Linked DNA regions of Homo sapiens: region 1 is linked to region 2. Evidence: fine-mapped expression QTL. A gene starts in region 2. The other region holds a variant in brackets. All regions are shown on one strand. Distances are between the middles of the regions.

The links. PIP is the estimated chance that this variant, and not a neighbour inherited with it, causes the effect.
Region 1: its variant is the best candidate, but not a certain one, in a credible set for the expression of LINC01629 in lung (GTEx, PIP 0.54).

The regions. Positions count from the first base shown.
Region 1 is chr14:76,236,594-76,246,424 of GRCh38, reverse strand. All of the region lies in intron 2 of LOC105370575 (a long non-coding RNA gene), which reads left to right. Among named protein-coding and RNA genes, the nearest start is that of GPATCH2L, 90 kb to the right of the region's middle. The variant A/G (reference allele first, on the strand shown) is at 5,128.
Region 2 is chr14:76,954,751-76,964,581 of GRCh38, reverse strand. LINC01629 (long intergenic non-protein coding RNA 1629) reads right to left here and starts at 4,944. Exons shown (of 3, transcript NR_133913.1): 1 at 4,829-4,944; 2 at 1,975-2,251. RefSeq lists enhancers at 2,402-2,696, 2,397-2,796, 2,807-2,856, 2,907-3,116, 2,901-3,436 and 5 more and a silencer at 7,805-8,164.

The sequences.
Region 1 (9,831 bases), 720 kb after region 2:
ACACACACACACACACAAAATTTCCTTATACAGAGACCCGGGGCTGCAATCACTGAGCTCTTTTTTTCCATTAGAAACTGCAAACAGGTAGGTGATCAGCCAAAGTCATGGATTCTAGACCCTTCCACGAGCACACGGGGTTCTGGGACATCAACATTTAATAGCAGAGATATAACATCTGTGGGAAATTATATATTTCTTAGTGGCATCAAATTTTCCCATGAAGTCAATCAAGATTAAAGAAAATGGCAGTACACATTTTAGAGTCCTCCTGTGATTAAAAAAAATTCCCCAATACTGTAATGTTTTCTTTTATAGAAATTCTGAAAGTTGTTCCAGTCTTGTGAGACAGTTCACAGAAGAGCTGTGCCCGTATCATGCGCAGCCCAAGTCCTTTCTAAAGGTTGAATGAGGAAAAAGTGTGCAGGAAAAGGGAGTTTGTTGAAAACTAAATGATCTAAGAAAATCAATATTGCATCTAAGACCCTTAGCCTGGCAGTTGTACTGGACGATCCTCTCTCCAAAAGTCTTGTTCTCTGCACCAAGCACTCTAACAGGCTCATCTCTCCCCCATTCTCCATGAAGAAGGATGACCTCTTTCTTCAGTAACACCCTTTTCTTACAAAGGCTTGCTTCTATTTTGTCAACTACCACAAGACGTAAGTTGGAGCAACTTCCAGAATTCAGACCAAAGGCAACTGAAATTCACCTGTAGATGAGCCAAATCTCAGATGGGAATGGAAGTCCCCAGCCATTCCCCCACCAACTTCACACCTTTCAGCCCCAGCATAGCCTGTTTGATTGTTGACTTGCTAGGGTTGTTGTTATATTTGAGCTATTATACACAACACGGGGATTTATTTATATATGTGTATACATACACGCATGCATTTACAAACATGTATACGTGTGTATATATGTACACTCTTTGTTACATCCTTTGTCAGGTACTCACTATGTGCAAAGTATTTTCTTAGGGTAAAAAGAGACAAGAGGGTAAGAAATGTGAGTGTGTGTGTAGAAATCCAAAGATGAATAAAAAGGCAACACCTGAAAAACCATTTGGCAATATGCATACCAAAACTGAACAAATGCCTAGCCTATGACCCATCAATCCAGCCCCTTGCTCTGCGTACATAAACTCACCAAAAGAATGCACAGGAGCATTCCTAGCAACACTATTTGTAATAGCCCCAAACTGGAAACAAACAGTTCATTAATGGTAGACAGAACATCTAATTGTGGTATATTTATACAATGGAATAATGTATCTCAATGAGAATGAGCAAATTACTGACACATACAACAGATTGGGTGAATCTCACAGACATGATAATGAGCAAAAGAAGCCAGACCAAAAGAGTACATGCCGTGTGCTTCCATTAGCGTGAAGTTTAAAAACAGGCAAACCTGATCTATGTCTTTACAAGTACAGAAAGTGGTTATCCTTGGAAGGGGATAGTGTCTAAAAGCGGGGCAGGTAGAAGAATGGCTTTTGTGTGCTGGTAATGTTCTATTTCTTGATCTGGGTGCTATTTATATATTTGTGCTGCTTTGTGAACATTCACCAAACCAAACTCTAAGGTTACGTATTTTTCAGTATGTGCAACTTACTTCAATCAAAATACAATCACTACCCTTCAGATTATAACTGGATACAAAGAAAAATGAGCACAAGGATAACTTTAATAAATTTAAAAACTATCACCAGGGTTTTTAGCTAATTAGAACACTTTTCAGCTTCAAGTAACAGCAAAATCAACTTAACTGGCTTAATCTAGAACAGCTAAGAAAGGGCTTCACATACTATGAAGTCCAGGGCAATAACAGGATTGACTAACTCACGGTCCAACAAAATCTAGCAACACTGGTTCTTTCTTTTTCCTTTTTTTTTTTTTTTTGAGATAGAGTCTCGCTCTGTTGCCCAGGCTGGAGTACAGTGGCACAATCTCAGCTCACTGCAACCTCCTCCTCCCAGGTTCAAGTGATTCTCCTGCCTCAGCCTCCTGAGTAGCTGGGATTATAGGCATGTGCCACCACGCCCAGCTAATTTTTGTATTTTTTAGTAGAGACGGGGTTTCACCATGTTGGCCAGGCTGGTCTCAAACTCCTGACCTCATGATCTGCCCGCCTCTGTCTCCCAAAGTGCTCAGATTACAGGTGTGAGCCACAGCACCTGGCCAAGAACTCTGGTTCTTTCTATCTTCTGCTCATCCGTCCACCCATCCTTGGGCTACCTCCCTTTGATTTATAAGGTGGCTGCCATGATTCTAAAAATCATATCTATGCAGATAATATTCAGCAGTACTCTTTCTTCCATAATATCTTTCTAAAAGCCTTTCCCAGGATGCTATGCTCTTGTCTAGCAAACATCTCCTCATAATTCATTGGCCAGAAATATATCACATGACCACTCCTGCACCAGTCATTGCCAAGGGAATTGGGGCCACTATGAATGACTTCAACTAAACAGGATTTGACCTGACTCAAAATAGGGATGACCACCCAAACTAAACCAGGGATCTGCCATCAAGAAGCAAAGGGGGAAAGGCTATTGGGTGAGCAATAAGCAGGCACACAAAGTATAATGTGGGTTTGGATGAAGAGAGGAGCATCTGGCTGAGAAACTCAAAAATGATGTCATGGGGAAGGTGGATTTTGGGATAGGACCTGGAGGATGCAAGGATTTTATAAAGTGGAGACGGGACCTGGGGTATAATTTCAGGCTGGCTGGCCAAGGTGTGAAAGTCTGACAGGTGTTCAGGGCACAGCAAATATTAGTCCAGTTGGGTCTGTTTAGGGCTATATGTAGGAGCATCTTGGGCGCTTAACTGTGGAGTGAGCACTTAATTTGAGGTACTAAAATCACTGAAAGTTTCTTAGAAGGAATGTCACCTGTACAGAGACTTAGCAGTGGTGGTATAAAGGTTTGTTTTATTGTAATGTATTAGTTATCAATTACCGTGTAACAAATTATCCCACCTTAGTGGCTTAAATTAACAAATTTTAATTATCTCAAAATTTCTGTGGGTCAAGAATTTGGGAGTCACTTACCTGGGCCGTTCTGTCTCATGGTCTTTCATGAGGTTGTAGTGAAGGTGTTTTCCAGGTTTGCAGATGTGACTGGGACTGAGGGATCCAATTCCGAGGTGGCTCACTCAAGGGCTGCTGAAAGGAGGCTTTAGATCTTTGTCACATGGGTCTCACCATAAAGCTGCTTGATCTTTTTTTTTTTTTTTTCTTTTTTGAGATGCAGTTTCACTCTTGTTGTCCAGGCTGGAGTGCAGTGGCACAGTCTCAGCTCACTGCAACCTCTGCCTCCTGGGTTCAAGCAATTCTCCTGCCTCAGCCTCCCAAGTAGCTGGGATTACAGACACCTGCCACCACACCCAGCTAGTTTTTGTATTTTTAGTAGAGATGGGGTTTCACCATGTTGGGCAGGCTGGTCTTGAACTCCTGACCTCAGGTGATCTACCTGCCTTGGCCTCCCAAAGTGCTAGGATTACAGGCATGAGCCACTGCACTTGGCCTTGGCTGCTTGATCTTCCTCACAACATGGCAGATGTTTCCTCCAGAGTGAGTGATACCAGGAAGTGGAAAAAGAGGAAACTACAATGTCTTCTATGACTTCCCTTCAGAAGTTATCAAGTTTTGGGTAAAATATGACTTCTGCCATATTCTGTTCATTATAAGAGAGACTCAGTAGAACCTACACACAAGGGATAGGAAATTAAGTACCACCTTTCAAAAGGAGGAATATCAAAGAATTTGTGAACATATTTTTTTTCTTCCCCAACTTGCACCAGCCCACAACCACCCCAGCCCCTGGTAACCACCATTCTACTCTGTATTTTCATGAAAGCAATCCCCCTAGATTCTACAGATGAATAAGTTTGTGTAGTATTTGTCTTTCTGTGCCTGGCTTATTTCACTTAATATAATATCCTCCAACTTCATCCATGTTGTTGCAAGTGACAAGATTTCTTTCTTTTGTATGGCTGAATGGTATTTCATTGTGTATATATACCACATTTTCTTTATCCATTAATCCTTTGATAGACACTTAGGTTAAGTCCATATCTTGGCTATTATGAATAGTGCTGCAGTAAACATGAGAGTGCAGATATCTCTTCAACATACTGACTGCATTTCCTGTGAATATATTCCCAGTAGTGAGACTGCTGGATCATATGGTAATTTTATTTTTAATTGTTTGAGAAACTTTCATACTGTTTTCCATAATGGCTGTACTAACTTACATTCCCACCAGCAGTGTGCAGGGGTTCATATTGATAATTATCATTTTGATAATAGCCATCCTAACAGGTGTGAGGTGATATCTCATGGTTTTCATTTATACAGGCTTTGGTTACATGGTCTAGATGATCATGGTTAGTGGTTAGTGGTGCTTTCTGATATTTTAGTGCACCTGTCACCAAAGCAGTGTACACTATACCCAATATGTAGTCTTTTATCCCTCACCCTGTTCCAACCTTCCCCCTCAAGTCCCCAAAGTCCATTATATCATTCTTATACCTTTGCATTCTCATAGTTTAGCTCCTGCTTATAAGTGAGAACATACAATATTTGGTTTTCCATTCCTGAGTTAATTCACTTAGAATAATGGCCTCCCGCTCCATCCAAGTTGCTGCAAAAGACATTATTTCATTCCTTTTTATGTCTGAGTAGTAGTCCATGGTGTATATATACCGCATTTTCTTTATCCACTCCTTGACTGGTGGGCACTTAGGCTAGCTCCTTACCTTTGCAATTGCAAATTTTGCTGCTATAAACATGCGTGTGCATGTGTCTTTTTCATATAATGACTCCTTTTCCTTTGGGTATATACTCAGTAGTGGCATTGCTGAATTGAATGCTAGATATACTTTTAGTTCTTTAAGGAGGCTCCACACTGTTTTCTATAGTGGTTGTACCAATTTACATTCCCAACAGCAGTGTAAAAGTATTCCCTTTTTGCCACATCCATGCCAACATCTATTGTTTTTTGACTTTTTAATTATGGCCATTCTTGTAGGAGTAAGGTGGTATCTCATTGTGGTTTTAATTCGCATCTGCCTAATGAAGAGTGATGTTGAGCATTTTTTCATACAGTTGTTGGCTGTTTAT[A/G]TATCTTCTTTTGAGAAATGTATTCATGTCCTTTGCCCACTTTTTGATGGGATGATTTGGGGGGTTTTTTGGTGATTTGAGTTCCTTGTAGATTCCAGATACTAGTCCTTTGTTGGATCCATAGTTTGTGAATATTTTCTCCCACTCTGTGGGTTGTTCATTTACACTGCTAATTATTTCTTTTGCTGTGCATAAGCTTTTTAGTTTAGTTAGGTCCATTTATTTATTTTTATTTTTGTTGCACTTGCTTTTGGGGGGTTAGCCATGAATTTTTTGCCTAAACCAATGTCCAAAAGAGTTTTTCTGATGTTATTATCTAGAATTTTTATTGTCTCAGATCTTAGATTTAAGTCTTTGATCCATGCTGAGTTGATTTTTCTATAAGGTGAGAGATGGGGATCCAGTTTCATTCTTCTACATGTGGCTTTCCAGTTTTCCCAGCACCATTTATTGAATAGGGTGTCCTTTCCCCAATTTATGTTTTTGTATGCTTTGTCAAAGATCCGTTGGATATAAGTATTTGGCTTTATTTCTCGGCTCTCTATTCTGTTCCATTGGTCTATATGCCTATTTTTATACCAGTATCATGCTGTTTTGGTAACTATAGCCTTGTAGTGTAATTTGAGATCAGGTAGTATGTTGCCTCCAGATTTGTTCTTTTTGCTTAGTATTACTTTGGCTATGCAGGATCATTTTTGTTCCATATGAATTTTAGAATTGTTTTATCTAGTTCTGTGAAGAATGATATTATTTTGATGAGAACTGTATCGAATCCATAGATTGCTTTGGGCAGTGTAGTCATTTTCACAATATTGATTCTTCTCATCCATGAGCATGGGAAGTGTTTCCATTTGTTTATATCATCTATGATTTCAGTGTGTCATAGTTTTCCTTGTAGAGATCTTTCACTTCCTTGGTTAAGTATATTCCTAAGTCAGGGGCTGGGCACGGTGGCTCACGCCTATAATCCCAACACTTTGGGAGGCTGAGGCAGGCAGATCACTTGAGGTCAGGAGTTTGAGACCAGCCTGGGCAACATGGTGAAACCTGGTCTCTACTAAAAATACAAAAATTAGCCAGGTGTGGTGGCGCATGCCTGTAGTTCAGCTACTCAGGAGGCTGAGGCATGAAAATCACTTGAATCCAGGAGGTGGAGGTTGCAGTGAGCCGAGATTGTGCCACTGCACTCCAGCAGTGTCTCAACAGAGTCTCGTTCTCTCACTCAGGCTGGAGTGCAGTGGCACAATATATATTAAAAATTAAAAAAATATATATATATTCCTAAGTATTTTAATTTTTTGCAGCTGTCATAAAAGAGATTGAGTTCTTAATTTGATTCTCAGCTTGGTCATTGTTGGTGTATAGCAGTGCTACTGATTTGTGTACATTGATTTTGTATCCTGAGACTTCACTGAATTCATTTATCAGATCTAAGAGCTTTTTGGATGAGTCTTTAGGGTTTTCTAGGTATATGATCACATCATTGGCTGACAGCAACAATTTGACTTCCTGTTTTCCAATTTGGATGCCCTTTATTTCTTTCTCTTGTCTGATTGCTCTGGCTAGGACTTCCAGCACTATGTTGAATAGAAGTGGTGAAAGCGGGCATCCTTGTCTTGTTCCAGTTCTCAGAAGGAATGCTTTCAACTGTATATGTGAACATATTTTAAAACCACAACAAGTGGATACTGATGTTCTGCTGTCAGCTTACCTGGCACATGTAAAGCCACAGAAGACATACCAGCAAAGGTGGCAAAGCACTTCTGGGAATGCCTGGTATTATGCAGCTATGAAATCTTGTTCCCTGTCCTCCCTAAACCCTTTTGGGTTGGTGATGTAGCCACACTCTGGCCAAAATGGATGCTCACTAGCAAGAACTTTTAGTTTCAGGTGAAAGAGTTGGGAAAGGAGCTTTCACCCAGCAAATCAGATCTTCAGCCAGCCTGTACTGACATACCTGTATTTGTCACACAGGATAATGTTTATCTCTCTAATTTTCAGAACATTATCAGGCATCTGAGAAGTACCACCTGGTTGATTGTAACACATAGTACTTTGCCCAAATGAAAATCGTGGAAAAATTCAACACTGGTCAGTATAGAATGCGCATGCTCGTAAAGTCTAAATATTTGCTTCCTCATGACTCCCACGTGAGTTGCTTAGGTAGATTTCTGGCTTGGGTTCAGAATGAAACTAAAAGTACAAAGAGCATCTTTGTCTGGCTCAGGATGTTCTCATTTTTTAATGAGATGGGAGCTCCCAAATGGACCACAACTGGTTGTCCAACCTAGGATGGTTTAAGGGAAAGGAAAGGAAGTTTCTTTAGAACAGTGGTTCTCCATGATACCAAGACTGACAGCAACAGCGACACTGAGACCAACAGCAGCACACCACCTAGAACCCTGTTAGAAATGCAAATTCTCAGTCCCACCTGGACCTATGAAATCAGCAGCTCTAGGGTGAGGCCCAGCAATCTGTGTTTTAACAAACTTTTAAGGAGATTCTAAAACATGCTTGAGTTTGAGAAACACTGCTTTAAAAAAAAGTCCTACCCGCAGCTTATTGCATGTAATTTAATCATAACTCAGTAAAGTAGCTCGGCTGGATACTTTCACTTATTCTTGTTCATGCATAAACACACCAGCACAGAAATCGCACAGACAGATCCAGACACAGGACACACATAGCACAATGAATGGCATAGACAACTGTTCATAGAGTAAGTACCAGAGCCCAAACTCCCTGACCCCTGAAAGTGGAAAATGTGTAGTGTCCTTTCAAGAAGGGTAAGGATTGGGCACAATGGCTCATGCCTGTAATCCCAGCCCTTTGGGAGGCCAACGCAGGCAGATCCGTTGAGCCCATGAGTTCGAGACCAGCCTGGGCAACATGGTGAAACCCCAACTTTACAAAAAATACAAAAATTAGCCAGGCATGCACCTACAGTCCCAGCTACTTGGGAGGCTGAGAAGGGAGGATCACTTGAACCTGGGAGGTAGAGGTTGCAGTGAACACCACTGCATTCCAGCCTGGGTGACACAGCGAGTCCCTGTCTCAAACAAAAGAAAGAAGGGTGAGGAAGAGAATGGGAAAGGGGAGAGACAGAGCAGAGAAATAGGAGAGGGAGGAGGAAGAAAAAGGACAAAATACAGCGTGTTTTCAAACATGATTTCATAAGACACAAAGTCTTTCTAAAGACAATCAGAATTCAAATGCCAGTGATCTTCACAGGAATCTTAATAAGAAAGTTAAAAATTTTTAATAATTGTATGGCTCATAAAACTCATCATGATTGAGGGTGTTGCTCACATCCTTAAAAGAATAAGCATCCCACCAGAGATGCATCTGGCACTTCAGAACTTTCTCCCAAACAACTCGTTTGCTTTTATCTCATGGACACTGTGAAGGGAATTGTTGATTATGTTTCCTTCTTTCAAGAAAACGCAGAATCAAATTAGCAAGTGAATATCAATCAGCCTTTTGTATGAGAGCCTCACGTGGCTTTGCCTCACATTTCCTGCCTTTATTTCCCCTGCCTGGGTGTCCTCCTTTGCTGCACATTTGTGCTTTTGTCAGACATTTCAAATCCTTTTAGGAATGAGGCTGGCAATAAGGAAATACGGAGAAAGGCTCTTTCCCCAAGCAAACTGGAAACCTGGGAGGAAGGGCAGTCAAGGCATGACAGCCATGGGTCCAGTCGGGTGGAGAAGCCCAAGGGGGCTCACTGATGCTGTAGGCAGTGCCTGCGGGGCAGCTTCTTTGCCTCTGGTGGAGGGTGAGTGAACAAGCCTGAAGGCAGGAGCAGAAAGGGGAAGGACAACTATTAGTGACTGAAAAGCTCTTTGCTCAAGTTGTTTCCTGGGGTTAGGAAAAGGCAGTAGGGAGAAGGAATCTGTGTTTTCTTGTTTTTTTTTGTTGTTGCTGTTTTTGTTTTTGTTTTTTTTGTTTGTTTTTTCCGAGACGGAGTTTCGATCTGTTGCCCAGGCTGGAGTGCAGCGGTGCAATCTCAGCTCACTGCAATCTCCACCTCTCGGGTTCAAGAGATTCCCCTGCTTCAGCCTCCTGAGTAACTGGGATTACAGGTGCCCACTACCACACCCGGCTAATTTTTGTATTTTTAGTAAAGACAGGATTTCACCACATTGGCCAGGCTGGCCTCAAACTCCTGACCTCAGGTGATCCACCCACCTTGGCCTCCCAAAGTGCTAGGATTACAGACGTGAGCCACAGCGCCCAGTAGAATCTGTGTCTTATAAGATGGGCTGATCTCTGTCTTCCTTAGCATTCTCGCTTTGAGACTAATCAGTATCCACACAGGATTGGCCAGCCTGATGCAGGCACCACGGATCCAAGCATTCCTCCCTGTTGGTGTAATGCACCAGGCACAGATCCAGACCACCCTGGTTCCACTCTGCTCAGAGTTCCCAGAGAGATGGGCCAGTGGCATCAGCACAGATGATTAGAGCACCTGTTCAGGTCTGGTGCAAAACCTGAGAAAATACTTGTTTTGATATCCTATCTGGTTTGGAATGGGTAGAAGGGTATTTTCCTTGGATAGCTATGTTGGAGGGACTTATTCCAGCTCTAAGGTGGTCTGATTGGACGGAACCTGGGAATCAACCACAAGCAGGGGTGTTTGGAGCTGCCCTTTCCACCAGCCAGCAGTGCCTCCCAGAAAAACTTCCATAAGCCGCTCCATCAGGA
Region 2 (9,831 bases):
CTAATTTTTTGTATTTTAGTAGAGATGGGGTTTCTCCACGTTGGCCAGCCTGGTCTTGAACTCCTGGCCTCAAGTGATCCACCCACCTCGGCCTCCCAAAGTGTGGGGATTACAGGCGTAAGCCACCGTGCCCAGCCTCTGCCAGTCATTTCTATCCTGCGTTTCCCTGGCTCGTGTCCCAGGCCTTTCAATCATCCCATCTTCTCACTCTATACCCTGCCTCCGTGTGTACATGGTGACCAGACTAAAACCCTATCCCAGGCCCCTGTTTAGGGTCTCAGACCACCATAGCCAATGGCCTAGTGTCCCACAGACATCTGGAATTCAGCCTGTCCCAGAGGGACCTTGTTGTCTCCTCTCTCTATCTATCGCTCTTCTTCTTCCAACTCTTCCTCCTGTAGGGAACAGGGGGGACCATGGTTTGTGCAGGAAACCTGGAGTCATCCTTCCCTTCTTCCTTTCCTCTAACCTCCATATCCACAATCCTGTCTCCTAAATATATCTCTCATGTCCATTCACATCTTCCCACTGCAACAACCAAACTCTTTTTTTTTCTTTTTTTTTTTAGACGGAGTGTGGCTCTGTCGCCAGACTGGAGTGCAGTGGAACCCTCTCAGCTAACTGCAACCTCTGCCTCCTGGGTTCAAGCGATTCTCCTGCCTCAGCCTCCCTAGTAGCTGGGACTATAGGCGCGTGCCACCATGCCCAGCTAATTTTTGTAGAGACGGGGTTTCACCACGTTGGCCAGGATGGTCTCGATCTCTTGACCTCGTGATCCGCCTGCCTTGGCCTCCCAAAGTTCTGGGATTACAAGTGTGAGCCACCACACCCGGCCTGTAACAAACTCTTGACGGGTCTCTCTTTGTCCAGTCTTGCCTCCCACTTCCATTTATTATGTCTCTCTGGCTTGAGGCCCTTCCATGGCTGTGTATGGAACACCCCACACCCCTCACCCCCCAGCCACCAGCCATCTGAATGGACTTCCTCCTCAGCCAGGGCAGTCTAAAATTTAACCTGAAAGACTGGTTCAGGCCATGAAGGGAAGCCAAGCCTCATTATACCCCTAACATCAACATCAACACAAACCTTATGTCTGATAAGAAACATTTACAGTCCATTCTCTCGAAAGCCTGCTACTGGAGGCTTCAACTGCATGATAAAACCTAGGTCTCCACAACCCCTTATCATAGCTCAGAGATTCCTTTCTGCTGACAATAACTCTTTCAACCAATTGCCAATCAGTTTATGTTCAAATCTAACTATGACCTGGAAGCCCCCCACTTCGAGTTGTCCCGTCCTTCCAGATCGAACCCATGTAAATCTTTTTTTTTTTTTCTTTGAGATGGAGTTTCGCTCTTGTTGCCCAGGCTGGAGTGCAATGGCGTGATCTTGGCTCACTGCAACCTCTGCCTCCCGGGTTCAAATGATTCTCCTGCCTCAGCCTCCCGAATAGCTGAGATTACAGGCATGCACCACCACACCCAGCTAATTTTTTTGTATTTTTAGTAGAGATGGTTTCTCCATGTTGGTCAGGCTGGTCTTGAACTCCCGACCTCAGGTGATCCTCCTGCCTTGGCCTCCCAAAGTGCTGGGATTACAGGCATGAGCCACCGCGCCCGGCCAGAACCCATGTAAATCTTACATATATTGATTGATGTATTATATCTCCCTAAAATGTATAAAAGCAAGCTGTACCTTGACCACCTTGCGCACCTGTCTTCAGGACCTCCTAAGGCTGTGTCATGGGCTTGTCCTTACCCTTGGCAAAAATAAACTTTCTAAAGGGACTGGGACCTGTCTCAGATATTTGGGGCTCACAAATCTCCATCACCCTCAGGACAAAATCCAAATGGCTGAGCAGAATTTCAAAGTCCTTTTGGGTCTGGCTTCTTTCCACCTTTGGGGACCCCAGCTCCCTGCACTCCCTCCCACCCTGTGAGCTCCAGCCAGCCTCACCCAAATGGCACCACTCACAGGCTGTTCGCTTGGCCTGGAAAATCTCTTCCTTGCTCATGGCTGACTTCAAGTCATCTTTCAGACCTGGATCCAGCTTCTCTCCCTCCAGGGAACCCTCCCTGGCTCCCCAGGGCTGGCTTAGCTGTGCCTCTCTGTGGGCTTGTCAAGAACCATGTGTTCAATGGCAGAGCCTTCATCCATGTGTTTTATCACTTGATTGCATCTCTGTATCCCAGGTTTCTAGAAGCTCTGTATGAGCAAGAACCTTGCCTGTCTTGCACTGCATTCCTAGAGCCTGGAACAGAATGCATTTGATAAATATTTTTGACTATTGATGAATCGAGACTTTTGACGAATTGGGTGCAGCCCAGGACTTGGGCAATAGCCCCTGCCTTAAGAAAGGACCAGGGCTCAAGCTCTAGGGTGAGAAGCTGAAGCTGACAGAGAAGTGAGAGTGACTAGAAAGTGAAAGTAAAGCTGAGCAGGGAGGAAAGAACCCCACGGTGTGAAGTCTCTGGGGGAGGGACCAGGCCAAGAGTTCATTCAACACAGTTGAGTGAGGCTCCTGAGGAAGCCGACGGGTGCCGGGATAGGCGGGGGATGTGTGGGCGGGACAGCGAGCTTGACGAAAACGAGAGAAAATGTGTTTTGTAATTAGTCATTGCCCCCTGGGGTGAGGTTGGGAGTTTTCACCGGAGGTGGGTTGACCAGATTTGCAAAATGACAAACAGGGGCTAACCGCGGGCTGGGGCCGCAGCGGGGCTTCCGGCCCCGCAGGCAGAAGTCGAGCTTTCTAGTTTTTTCTCTGTCCCGCCCCCCTGCATTCAAGGTTCCGCCAAATAGTAGAAACTGGGAGGAGAAAGACTCTCAGGAGACTGCCCAGGGGCCAAACTGCCCTTTCTGACTCCGGCCCCTGCGCTCTGCGTGGTCTCATGGCCAGGGGAAAGGGGACAGGGTGGCCCTTGCTACTTGGAAGGGTCCATCCAAGGATTTTGACTGACTTAACGCTGTGGAGGTTCTGGGGAAAGTTGAAAACATTCTGAAGATGGGGGATCTGGATGAAAGCTACCATCCCTCTTTTCCTCCTAATGAAAATAGCAGGCTGGGTGAGGTGGCTCACGCCTGTAATCCCAGCACTTTGGGAGGCTGAAGTGGGCAGGTCACCTAAGGTCAGGAGTTTGAGACCAGCCTGGCCAACATGGTGAAACCCCGTCTCTACTAAAACTGCAAAAGTTAGCCAGGCATAGTCTCAGCTACTCAGGAAGCTGAGACAGGAGAATCACTCGAACCCAGGAGGCAGAGGTTGTAGTGAGCCGAGATCGTGCCACTGCACTTCAGCCTGGGCGACAGAGCTAGACTCTGTCTAAAAAAAAAAAAAAGAAAAGAAAAAAAAATAGCAAAGGGAATGGAGCACATTTCGGTGTGAAGGTGTGAAGCGTATGGAAAAGTGGAGGTCAGTGGTTCCCCTACAGGCACTCCTGGGGTGCTGCAACCAAATGCTAGGACAGAGACCCCCACCCCCACCCCACTGCCGACACATACACAAAGGGCACACTTTGGTCTCCACTCCTCTATTTTCCAGAGCAGTGGCTTTCGAACATTTGAAATCAAGACCTGCACTAAGAAATGCGTTCCTATCTCAACCCATTACTCAGACAAGCATACTACCCTGAGGCAAAAACTTTATGAAATTAAACGTTCCTTTTAACCTGCACTTCTATTCTTACATTCTCTTCTATTTCCTTTTTTTAAAAAAAATTCTGGCTGGGCGTGGTGGCTCACGCCTGTAATTCCAGCACTCTGGGAGGCCAAGGCATGCGGATCACTTGAGGCCAGGAGTTCGAGACCAGCCTGGCCAACATGGCAAAACCCCGTCTCTACTAAAAATACAAAAAATTAGCCAGATGTGGTGGCAGGTGCCTGTAACGCCAACTACTTGAGAGGCTGAGGCTGGAGAATCACTTGAACCCAGGAGGTGGAGGTCAGTGAGCCAAGACTGTGAAACTGCACTCTAGCCTGGGCAGAGACTAGAGACTCTAGCCTGGACAGAATGAGACTGTCTCAAAAACAAACAAACAAAAAAATTCTGTGTATGACTATGATCCCTTAACTTGATTTCATGACCCACGAATGGATCTCAACCTACAACTGGAAAAACCCACTACTCTGGAGGAGCTGATTCCGTACTCTGCTGGATCTTCAATTCCTGACCGCTGGAAATTGGCTGCAATTTTCCTGGTGAGTTCCTCCCTCCATGTTCTCCTCACTAATACACCCTACACCAGACCTCCAGTCCTAAAAGCCACCACCTGCTTCACGTCACCACACCTGTGCCAATCAGATTTCCTCTGTTCCCTCTTGGACCTTCAGGGACCTCCAGGATAAATGCCAGGATCCCAGTTACTGGCAGACTGAGAGAAGGATGACAGCCCCAAAAGATCACGAGGTTCCTATCTGTTCATATTTGGTGGGCAGCTTTCGTCTGCAAGAACAAAATACAAGCCGGGTGAGGCGGCTCACATCTGTAATGCCAGTACTTTGGGAGGCCGAGGCAGGCGGATCACCTGATGTCAGGAGTTTGAGACCAGCCTGACCAACATGGCGAAACCCCATCTCTACTAAAAGTACAAAATTAGCCAGGTGTAGTGGTGCATGCCTGTAATCCCAGCTACTCGAGAGGCCGAGGCAGGAGAATCGCTTGAACCCGCGAGGCGGAGGTTGCAGTGAGCCGAGATCGCACCACTGCACTCCAGCCTGGGCGACAGAGAGAGACGCTGTCTCAAAATAAATAAATAAATAAATAAATAAATCAATAACAAAATACATAACTCAAGCAATTTAAACAGTGAGGGGTAAAACTGAAATCACATACCAGGAAGCCCAGAGGTCTGCGGTTCCAGGGTTGGTAAATGAAGTGACCACTCTATGTCTATTTCTCTCTTGTCATTGACACCCTTTGGAAGTGTCTTTTTCTACCTTAGTCTCAGTATGACAAGAGTGCTATGTCAGGGGGCTTTTGTAGGTAGCAGAAGGGAAGGGTGAGGCCAGGGTTTCAGCTGGCTGGGCAAGTGGGTGAGTCACTAAGTGGCTGGGCCCCTTTAGCCCCATGTAAGGACAGGCTGCAGCCACCCACTGCCCGCCCCAACTGTGTCTGGACAGAAATGGACATGTCTGCTTTGCAGCAGCCACGCCTCATGCTGGGATAAACCTATGAATCAGGAAGGCCACAGATGCTATCACCCGTTTCTCTCCACCAGTTACAGGCCCCGAAAGCAGAAATGGCTGTGGCCTCACCTACGAATCCTGAATGGCGAACCCAGCATCCTGTCTCTAGCTCAGTGCTGGATTCCCTGGAGCAGGAGTGCCAAATGTGGCAGTGAGGGAAACTCTTTGGTTCTCCCTTCCACTTTGGGCTCATTCTAAGTCTATTCTCTAGGCACTGAGACCCCTCATGTTGATTTCTTCTGCCTACATGGGCCTGTTGTCTGTCGGTTTTCCCAGGAAGAGCTGGGAACTTGAGGGTTGGGGTGGGTGGGTATAATGGTGGCAGAGTCTCCCCCGGTTTCTGTGTCTATGGTAGTACCTGATAGCACAGACCTTGCCTTAACCTAGGTCTAGTAGCATGTGGGACTGTGTGTGAACTGGAAGGAACATGAGTGCCACTTCCCTTACTATGTAGATGTGGAGCCCCAGGCTCAGAAGGGGATAGTGATTTGCCCAAGGCCACACGGCTCCTTAGCAGCAGAGGCATACACTGGGGTTTCCTGGACTTCAAGCCTCCACTCTTTTGCCACTCCCACCTGTGGGGATCCCTGCTTTGCCCCCTAATTGGCTCCACCTCCCAAAGTCATCATAAATGGCCCAGGTGAGAGTGGTGCCCTGTTGCTAGGGGCTACCGGGTCCAGGCAGTAACTCAGATGCCTGCCCCAGGAAAACCCTGACAGTGGAGGAAACGCCTGTGTTTCTATCCCAAGCTGGTTTGCCTCGCTCCTGCTGAACACAGTAAAAAGAAGGTAGAATCCACACTGCAGGCCCTGAGACAACAAATGCTCACCCTTCTGAGGAAAGCTGCCTTTAACAAAGGGGAGTAGGGCTTGGCTGGCCCTGGAAAGAATTTGCTACGGGTGCTGGTGTTAGGGAGGGTATGGTACCAGCCAGTGTGTAGGAGTTCTGCTCATGGGAGGGTGTACCGGGTGTGTGCTGATTCCTCTGTGTGTGCCCAGGAAGACGGCAGCTAGTGTAGACAACCAGGGAGTGCCTGACTGGCAGCTGGAATGCCAGGGTTCTCTCAGCCACCTGTCGGTCCTGTGACCTTGGGACTTAACCTCCCAGTCTCAGTTTTTCTCAGCTGCAAAATGGGGATGCTAAGAATCTCCTTCACAAGATTGCTAAAGAGGTAAAACGAATGGATGTGCATATTCTCCCAGCGGCTGGACAAAGTGGCTTATGCCTATAATTCCAGGACTTCAGTAGGCAGACGCAGGAGGATCACTTGAGCCCAGGAGTTCAAGACCAGCCTGGGCAACATAGCAAGACCCTGTCCCTTCAAAAAAAAATTAAAAATTAGCTGGGCATGGTGGCATGCACCTGTAGTCCCAGTTACTCAGGAGGCTGAAGGGGGAGAATCTTTTGAGCCCGCGAAGTCGAAGCTGCAGTGAGCTATGATCGCGCCACTGTAGTCGAGCCTATGTGGCTGAGAGAGACCCTGTCTTAAAAAAAAAAAAAAAAAGTTGTTCACCCAGGGACACAGCATGAGGGCTGCTCTGGAGGTAGGGGCTGGCATGGAGTTGTGCTCCTCCCCCCTGGGCCCTCACTCTGCCTGCGGGTGTCAGGCAGTGTGTGGTCTGGGGAAGGGCAGGGCAGGGCACAGCAGCTCCCGAGCCCCTCGTCTGTGATTTCCTTCCTGACTTCCTTGGCTGCCCAAGGCAGCACTAAATCAGGTCACCACATCTCTCTCCTCACAGTAGGTGTCATGCAAACAGCTCCTGCCCAGCTCCCAATCCAGGTCACCATCTCCCCACCCACTCCCTTTTCTGGCAGCCAAGGAAAGGGCTTCTTGGTGCTTTTATTCTTAAGTGGCCGTTTATTAGACCCTGGCTATGTGCCTGACACTGGGCCTATTGCTTTAAGTAGAAATAACAGGCACCATTTGCTGCATGTGATATACCAGACCCCATCATGAAATTATCCTCTTTTAGGGAGATATGATCACCTCTATTTTATAAGTGTGGAAACAGGCTCAGGAAAGGTATCTCATTTAAGGTCCCTGTGGCAAGTGCAGAGCCTAGGCTGAGACCTAGATGTGGAGATGTGGCTGATTCCAGAGCCTGTGTTTTCAGCCCCTGAGGTCCCATGTTAGGGGACTGGTGGCAGAGGGTGGGATGGGAGCTGGGGGTGCCAGGGGAGGGAAGGTGTGCCACTTTGGCCTCAGAAACCCCAGGGTCACTCCAGGAGACAAGGTGAAGTCTGAGGGGAGGAGGCTGGGGCTGAGGGAGGGGGGTGGGGGGGACACACACACACTCACCCAGACACACGTATGACACACACATGACAGGCCCACAGGCCAACACAGATGCCCACAGACAGGGACAAAGACCCACCAGACAGGCGCAGGGATCAACATGCACTAAGACACATACACAGACTCAGCCATACACAAAAGACAGACACAGCCGCGAAAATATACACCGGTGATGGACAGGCATCAGACATACAGACAGACCCTGCCACACCCGCACACACCCACGCCACACACCCCTGCTGGAGGGAAGGGAAGGAAGAGCCTCTGCCTCATTTCCGGGCCTCCTCCTCCAAAGCGGAGGGAAAAGCCTTCTGCAGAAGTGCTGAGTCAGCAGCGGGTGACAAATGAGCCTCCGGGCGGCGGGAACGGGCGCGAGCACTTAGCATGCAGAGCGCGTTCGTGCCAGCGCCAGCCCCGGCCCGCGGCGGGCGAGGGGGCAGGGAGCGGCGGCCGGCTGCCCGCTCGGGGGAGGCCTGGGGGAGGAAGTGACTCGCTTTGACTTTGCAAACGCCCGACTTTGCAGCCCAAGGTCACGCAGCAGGCGCCGCCAGCCGGCTTCCTGCAGGGAGGCGGGGTGGGCTCTGGCTGGCGCTGGGCGGCAGCCGGGCCAGGCAGGGGAGGGGCTGGACCCGGGGAGGGGAGGGGAGCAAGAGGAGGGGGTGGCCCTCCCAGTGTGGCAGGACTCCGCAAGAACAGACAATGGAACTGCGAGGAGAGGTCCCTGAGCGCGAGGGCCGTCTCAGAAATGCCCAGGGCCGGCCCAGGGAGCTGAGCGTGGCTAGAGCTGATCCCTGGGGTTCTTCTGCTCGCCCGAAAGCCCCCACTGGAATCTAGTCAAAGGGCACCTCGCAGCACGCCTGGGTTGCTGCAGCCGCCCCAGGCAGACTTCTTCCCTCCTGCCCCTCTAATTTATTCTTCACGGAACAGCCAGCGAGTTCTTTTCAAAACATCAATCACATCATTTCCTGTGATGGCTTCCCTCTGCCCTTAGAATAAATCCAGCCCCTCATTGCGGGTAACTCATCTCCGGCATGAGCCACTCTTGATTGTGAAAGGATGAGCTATTAAAAACGACACCAGGAGGACATGCCTGAACTGGGACTGTCCCAGCACCAGGCCCAACTTCTAGCCTGTTCCCACTGCGGCACTTCTGCCTACACCCCCCTTCTTTGCATGGCTGGCCCAGGTCTCAGCATGAATGTCAATGTCGTCTCTGCAGAGAGACCTTCCCTTGCCATCCACCTGCAGAGGTCCCTGCTCCTTAAGCAGTTATACTGCTTTATTTCCTTCATAGCTTTTACCACCCTCTGATTTTACCTTTTTTGTTTGTTTGCTTCTCTTTTGTCTATTTCCCTCCTTCAATAAAAGCTTGAGGGCAGAGACTTTCTCGGTTTTGTTTGGCTCTGCTGTATCCCCAGTACCTGGAAGAGTGTGTGGGACATAGTTGGTGCTCAGTAACATTAAATACAGAAATGAATGCACCAATGGGTGGCAGACCTGAAAGTGAACCAAGTCCTGGGAGGACAGCCTCAGGGACACATAACAAGGAGAGGGCCAGGGCCTGCGTGGGGGTGTTCCTGTGCAGGATCTATGGATAAGAGCCGCAGGGGCTTTGGGAGGCGGAGTGGGCAGATCACCTTAGGTCAGGAGTTCGAGACCAGCCTGGCCAACATGGTGAAACCTCGTCTCTACTAAAAATACAAAATTTAGCCAGGCGTGGTGGCGGGCGCCTGTAATCCCAGCTACTCAGGAGGCTGAGGCAAGAGAATCACTTGAACCTGGGGGGCAGAGGTTGCAGTCAGCTGAGATCATGCCATTGTACTGCAGCCTGGGCGACAGAGGGAGACTCAGCCTCAAAAACAAACAAACAAACAAACAAACAAACAAAAAAGGCTGCAGGGGCTCCTGACCCCTGAAAGCAGCAGGAAGGCTTTAGAGAAATCCTGAGCAGGCTTGAGAATCTCTGCTAGCTCTGTCTTTAGGCAATATTTACTATCTGGAAAGTAAGAATGAACACAACTTCTCCAGGGTTGTTGACGGCTCCTGGTCCTCTCCCAGATGTCACCTCCCTTCCTTGCCAGCTCCTAAGACACACTTGGCTCTGCTGGGAAATCCAGGAGTGAATTCCCTTCCTTTGTTTGTGAGTGTTGCACTGTTACAGGGGGCCATGATGGAGGCGTCAGCTGTGTTTCCACTCTGGGTCCTGCCAGGGTTGCCTCAGTTTCTTCCTGGATGGGCAGAGATTGAGCAAGGCTCTGCTGCTCTGAGGTGAACCTCTGGGAACAGGGAGGAAATCTGGCAAAATACAAAACCTACAAAATGTTCTTGCCCTGGCTTTCTGGCTTCAGTTGACT